Homo sapiens: one gene and its partner. The protein of the gene in region 2 purifies or fractionates together with the protein of the main gene of each other region. This does not show direct contact. Each region holds a gene or a part of one and is shown on either strand. Other genes may lie near its edges.

What was found. Proteins that work in one complex are often made in the same cells at the same time.
Region 1: the proteins of MANSC1 (region 2) and PTPRF purify together in Homo sapiens (affinity purification with mass spectrometry; 2 studies listed by BioGRID and IntAct, with this or other methods). This does not show direct contact.

Annotation. Positions count from the first base shown.
Region 1 is NC_000001.11:43,533,763-43,537,411, reverse strand, and holds part of PTPRF (receptor-type tyrosine-protein phosphatase F isoform 1 precursor), read right to left. Parts: intron 1-3,649. UniProt on the Homo sapiens protein: Possible cell adhesion receptor. It possesses an intrinsic protein tyrosine phosphatase activity (PTPase) and dephosphorylates EPHA2 regulating its activity.
Region 2 is NC_000012.12:12,333,231-12,336,879, forward strand, and holds part of MANSC1 (MANSC domain-containing protein 1 isoform 1 precursor), read right to left. Parts: intron 1-3,649.

The sequences.
Region 1 (3,649 bases), on a different chromosome or scaffold from region 2:
CAGCCTGGAAGAACACACCCCAACATACATGCCAGTCTTCAAAGAAGCTTCAGAAGCAATATTTATTTTTGACTTTCTCTACTCTATAATTTTTAAAATGAAGGCGTGCCCCTGGATGCCTCCTCCGCTGGCACACATGCAGCGACAGAGCCCAGCCCCTTCCTTCTAGAGCCATTATTGAGTCCCCACCAGCGTGGGTACCATCCTGGGTGGGGGTGGGGGTCAGACACACCCATACCACCTCATCACCACTTCACGGAAGCTCAGCTGTTTGGCCTACTCGACGCAAGCTGCACCTTGCAGCAGGCTTCTCACCTCAAGCCCCCACATGCACAGTGATCCCCACCCCACACCACTCTGCCACCTTGGCTCCTCCTATAACGGACACAAAGAAACCACAGTGGGAGGGTGGTGCGTGGGAATGTCCTCACCGGCCCAAGACTGACCCTCATCATGAAATCAAGGACACACCTCTGCACCTGGGAATTACCCTCAAGTTGCACTAACCACCTCTGCCAATATGGGGGTACTCTCACCGACTGAAGGCCATCCCAACTGACCCAAGATGGCCCTCGCCAGCTTGGCGACCCAGCCTCCACTGCCCCACCTACCTGCACCAGAACCCGCAGCCCTCTCTGCATGCTTCCCTCCCCGCTCCCCAAGCTGAGTTTCCAGCAGCTGCTGCTCCCAGCATACAGGCTGCCCAGCAGGTCTGGCCAGACAAACCAGCTTCCAGGCCCCAAACTTAAAGGCCCATTTGTCTAGAGATGCCCGCAGGGCCTCACAGTATTCAAGTGAGGTTTTTGGCTGCACCATTGTGCAGAGACCCTGGGCAGAGGGGCAGAGTCCAAGGCAGGGAACTGGGTAATGGGAAAGGCCCCCCAAGCTGGCCAGGCGCTGCTGCCACACCCAGCCACAGCAGGGTCTCGTGCTTGGAGACTGAGACAGGCCCTACATGGAGCAGAAGCCACACCTGGAAAGAGGTGTGTACCCAAAGTGGCCAGGGGCCATTTTAGAAGACTAAACATTTGCAAAGACCCTGAGGCACACAGAACAGCATGAGGGCAGGATCCTAGAAAAGCCAAACAGTAACTTTGAACCACGTCAGTCTGGGATCAAACTGACCTCAAAACAACCTATCAGGCAACCAAATAAAGACTCAGATTCACCAACTGCAGCTCCCAGAACCCACTCTACACTCACACTGGGACAGAGCCCAGAACAACCAGGACAACCAGATACACCCCCAGAACAGAGCCAGAGCTGACATCTGGAAGGTTGACTAGAAAGCTACTCAGAAAGGGCCTGAATGGTTCAGGACCCAAGTTAGAAATCACACTGCTGGCCAGTCACAGTGGCTCACCCCTGTAATCCCGGCACTTTGGGAGGCCAAGGCAGGTGGATCACTTGAGCCAGGAGTTCAAGAGCAGCCTGGACAACATGACAAAACCCTGTCTCTAAAAAAATACAAAAATTAGCCAGGTGGGACTACACCTGTAGTCTCAGTTACTCAGGAGGCTGAGGTGGGAGGATCACTTGAGCCCAGGAGGTGGAGGCTGCAGTGAGCCACGACTGCACCACTACACTCCAGCCTGGGCAACAGAGTGAGATTCTGTTTCAAACCAAAGAGAAAAAGAAAGAAATCACACTGCTTGGCACCCAGGAAGGCCTCAGAAGGGGTGAAGTCCACAGTCATGTCCAATATCAAGAAAGAAAGCCCTTGGGGCCAACGCAGGGCTGGCCCCAGTAGGGTTCCCCATCATCTGCCAGGCCTGAAACCTGGCCCGGCAGTGGGTCAGGAGCAAGTCGATGATACCTAGGGGAATGCAGGCACAGCTGCCCTCTGGAGCAACCCCCAGAATGCCCCTGTGGCTGCACCAGGAACAGTCCCCAGAAACAGCAGCTAAAATACTGCTAAGGAGCTAAAACCAGAGTTCTCAGACCTAGAAGTCACGGTCACACAGAGACATGGTGCATCTGGACCACAGAGGCAGATGGTGGCAGAAAGAGCCTCAGTAGAAGCCCAGGGCCCAGGGAGGGTGGGAGGAAATGGAGAACTCAATACCCCAAGGCTGCCCCTTCTCAAAATTCCCTTCCACCTACCCCAAACATGGAGTCTCTTCTGCAGGCCTCACCTCTAGTCTTCTCAAGCCCACCCACCTGAAGGTCAAACACCTGAGCAACACAAACAATCCCATCGATAACAATAGGGGCAGGCACCCCCTTTGTTGAGCTCCTTGACCTGCTAATCTCAGCTCAGAATTGCAGCAACCTTAGGCAGACAGGGACCCTAACCTTAGCAGTCTATCTTCTCATTAAAGGCAACCTCATGTGACCCCTGATGGGAGGGTGGGTTTACACCATCCCAGTTGAGGATGATTACAGTAACTGCAAACACAGACAACAGTACTCACTAGATGCCAAGCCCTGTGCTACACACACTTTATGCATACTATCTTTAATCCTCATAACAACCCTTATAAGGCACGGGTTTTTATTATAATCATTTGACAAATGAGGAAGCGGATTCAGAGAGGTTAAGCCACTTGCTTAAAGTCACGCTGCTAGTAAACAGAGTCCAATCCTAGCAGTATAAAACTCGAGCTCTTCACCACTGTCGGAGGTTACTTTCTCTCGAGGTGCACAGCTCTATGGTCTCTCATACAGCTCTCGCTTCTCTTGGTCCGACCGACATTTCTCTCCCATACCCTCACACCAAAGCCCCTCCTTGATGTGCCTCCCCCACTGAGCCTCCAATGTCCCAAGTACCTCAAGGGCCACATGTCCAACTAAGAGCTTATTCTCTGCCCCTCCTCACCAAGTCCCTAACACAGTGAAGCTTCAGGGCCTTCAGTGAAGGCCCGCTCAACCACTCCGAGGAACCTGGACTCCTTCCTCTTCCTCTCCTTCACTCCCACATCCAATAAATCATTCTGTCCTGACAAGTGTACCTTCAAGATGGCACCATGCTACCACCTATCAAAGCCAGCATCTTCTCTCACCTTACTTACCTGCACCCTCTTGCCCCACTGGGCATCCTGTCTCCATCCTTTTCCCATAGCCACAGAGCATTTTCTGGAAACATAAACCTGACCACAGCACACTCCACCCTCCCTATCCAAGCTTTAAACCTTTGGTGTTTTCTCTCTGGGTTCTCAGAGTAAAATTACAGGTACTTAACAGGGCATTCAATGCCCTCTGTGATCTGCCACATCTCTGAATACTTCACAAGTGACAACACCTCCCAGTCTTTATTCATACTGGTTTTTATCTATCTCAAGTCCTTTCTCTCTTCTTCAAACTCCTACTCATCCCTCCAAACCTAGTTCACATCACTTCTTCTTGGTCTCCTCTGGGACTCACCTCACCCTGACCTCCGAACTCTCCCCCGTCTCTTGATGAACTCTTGCAATGTTCTAACCCAACTCAGAACCGCAGCTGCTTTAGTTGAGCAGATGCCTGAACCTTAGGGGTGGGCTGCCTCTTCTACATAGCTGTTAGTCCCAAAGGAAGAAAGGCAGCCGGGGCCGAAAGCGCCTACCCCGGGGTCTGGCACACAGTCAGCAATCAATGACAGGTAACTGAATTGCTTTTGCAATCCCATGGTGCAACCTGCTCCCCCAAGGACCACGAGCTTCTCGAGGGTAGG
Region 2 (3,649 bases):
GAGACAGAATTTTGCCATGTTGCCCAGGCTGGTCTTGAACTCCTGGAATCAAGCAATCCGCCCACCTCAGCCTCCCAAAGTGCTGGAATTACAGGTGTGAGCCATCATACTTGGCCTATAATTCATTTTAAAGTTAAAAAAGAAAAAGACTGTTTAAGTAAACACTCTGTGATGTGTGTGAAATCAGAACTTAAATATGGCCATTGACAAGAATGGCCAAAACAGCTGTTTTCTTTCTCAAGCATGCAAGCTCATAAATAAAGCAAAGCTAGGGCCAGTCCCACTTCTTGATAAGATTCCTCTGTTGGCAGAGGTCCTAGAACCACAAAGGGATCCTCCACACCTGCTCCATTCGCCTCACCCACTCATGTTTGCCATTGGGGCATGGTGCTTCCTCTCAGTCACGCAGAGATGAGCCACAAAGGGAGCTGCAAAGCAGCTCAGCGCCCTTAACTCCTCTTTGGAGTTTTATTTTCAAACGACTTCACTGAGTTGAAAAATGAGAGACTGACTATTACTGGGACCCCAGCTGAGCAAACAGACTCCCAATTTATTCTATGTCTGAATTCTCCTATTCTTCCAGTCCTTGGTAAAAATGACATGCCATGAAGCTGCCAACAACAACAATAAAAGATTAAATACCAAACTGCAATGGCTTTAGAGAATGAACAGAATCCACTGTCATCTTTCAAACTCTTGGTCCGTAAATATTAGTCAATGGGATATAGGAAATAGAGGCTGGGCACGGTGGCTCATGCCTGTAATCCCAGCACTTTGAGAGGCCGAGGCAGGATGATTGCTTGAGGCCAGGAGTTTGAGACCAGCCTGGGCAACATACTGAGACCCCCCCATTGCTACAAAACATTTTAAAAAATTAGCCTGGCATGGTGGTGCATTATCTGTAGTCCCAAATACTTGGGAGGCTGAATGGAGAGGACTGCTTGAGCTCAGGAGGTGGAGGCTGCAGTGAGCCATGATCGCGCCGCTGCAGTGAGCCATGATCGCGCCACTGCACTGCAGCCTGGGCAACAGAGTGAGATGCTGCCTTAAAAAAAAAGAAAAAAAAAAAGAGAGAGAGAGACAGAAAAGAAAAAGAAATAGAGTTCTTCCAGAAACAAACCACCAAACAGATAATCTGTATTTAATTTCACTCCAGGCAGGAGGCAGATAATTCATTTTTAATGGGGTAATATGAATTCATCAACATGGACAGATTCATACACAGAATTACAAACACAACTTGCACACATCCTGTAGATATAAACAGTCCTTTGCATACTATGTCCGGGGTTGGTGCCACGTTGCCCCTAGGTGTCCATCAACCTGCTCAGGGGCCGGCAACGCCCCCTGGTGGCTGCCACAAGAACAGTTTAATTCTAATTTCACTTCATTACCTTCACACTCGCCCTAAAAAGATTTATGCACATGCCAAGTTCCCTTTTTTCCGTTCCCATTGGCAAGGAACTTCATCCCATACATGCTCTTTTATATGTGCATTACAAAAGTAACAACACTCCAGAAGTATTAGAAAACAAATTCAGCTGTAATTTCTATCATCGTATCCTAACAACAATTATTTACACAATACTCTGTGCTTCACGCTCCTGTTTGAGAGGATGTTTGACCCATCAGGCTTCCCTGGCACATGAACAAAACTCAGACACAGCCTCAGCTAGGGGGCAAAGCAGTGTCAACACGCAGGCACCCTGGGCAGTATCATTCCCCGAAGCCCCTCATACTTAATGCAGTCAAGAGAGAACCCTAGATTCCACTCCACCTAGATTCCATTCCACAACCCTAAAACTACTCAAGTTTCCCCCAGTGCAGCAAATGGTGTCACCATTCATCTGGATGCTCAAGGCAAAAACTAGGACTTGGCCTTGATGGTTCTTTTTTTCTGGTTCCCCAGACCCACACCACCAGCAAGTCCTGTCAACTCTACTTCGGAATAGCCCATATGTCCACTACTCTCTCCATCTCGCCCGCCACTCCCTGTTTCTTCACCCAGATCTCACCTGCGCCTCCTAACCAGTCTTTCCATTTCCACTTTGCTGCTGTGTCACTGTCCATTCCCAAGAGGGCGGCTACGGTGAGCTTTGAGAAATCACCTTTTTTTTTTCTTCTCCCCGAGACAGAGTCTTGCTCTGTCGTGCAGGCTAGAGTGCAGTGGCGCAATCTCAGCTCACTGCAACCTCTGCCTCCTGGGTTCAAGCAATTCTCCCGCCTCAGCCTCCTGAGTAGCTGGGATTACAGGCACGCACCAGCACACCCGGCTAATTTTTGTATTTTTAGTAGAGACGGGGTTTCACCATGTTGGCCAGGCTGGTCTCGAATTCCTGACGTTGTGATCTGCCCGCCTCAGCCTCCCAAAGTGCTGGGATTACATACATGAGTCAGGAGGTCAGGAATTTGAGACCAGCCTGGCCAACATGGCGAGACCATGTCTACTAAAAATACAAAAATTAGCCAGGCATGGTGATGCTTGCCTGTAGTCCCAGCTACTCAGGAGGCTGAGGCAGGAGAATCACTTGAACTTGGGAGGCAGAGGTGGCACTGAACCGACACTGCATCACTGAACTCCAGCCTGGGTGAAAAGAGTGAGACTCCATCTCAAAAAAAAAATAAAAATAAAACTCCCAACAGCTTCCCACCACACACCTAAAAACTCCCGGCCGGGCACGGAGGCTCATGCCTGTAATCCCAGCACTTTGAGAGGCCGAGGTGGGTGGATTACCCGACATCAGGAGTTCGAGACCAGCCTGGCCAATGTGGTGAAACCCTATCTCTACTAAAAATACAAAAATTAGCCACGTGTAGTGGCATATGCCCCTCCTAAGGCGGAGGTTGCAGTGAGCTGAGATCGCGCCACTGCACTCCACCCTGGGCAACAGAGTGAGACTCTGTCTCAAAAACAACAACAACAAACAAAAAAACTCCCTCCTATGACTTACAAGGTGTTATGTGATCTGGCCCTCCCCACCGTTTTGCATATCACTCTCTGCGTATTTCACAATGAGTCAACCAGCTGGGATTGGAGTGTTGGTTTTTCAAACACTCCAAAGCATTCTGCCTGAGGACCTTGGACTTGGAAGGTCTTCCCCTGATCTCCTCACATCTGGCTCCTCACTATTCAGATCTCAGTTTAGGGGTTACAACTTTACTTACTGATTGTCTATTATACCGTCCTGTCTCAATTCTGTGCATAGCACTTGTGACTATATTTTTCTTGATTATTTATTTATTATGGTTATTGTCTCTCTCCCCTAAAACATAAGTTCCAGAAGGGAGAACCTTGTTTTCCTATTTTTTTTTTAGAGATAGTATCTCACTTTGTCACCCAGGCTAGAGTGTAGTGGCATGAACACAGCTCACTGCAGCTTTGACCTCCTGGTCTCAAGGAATTCTCCTGCCTTGGCCTCCCAAGTAGCTGGGACTACAAGCTCATGCCACCATGCCCGGCTAATTTTTTTAATTTTTTGTGGATATGAGGTCTCATCATGTTGCCCAGGCTGGTCTCTAACTTCTGGGCTCAAGTGATCCTCCCACCTCCCAGAGTGCTGGAATTATAGGCATGAGCTACCACATGGCCAGAACCTTGTTTTTCATGTTTAGTGTTGTTTCCTTAGGGCATAGAAAGTACTTGGCACAT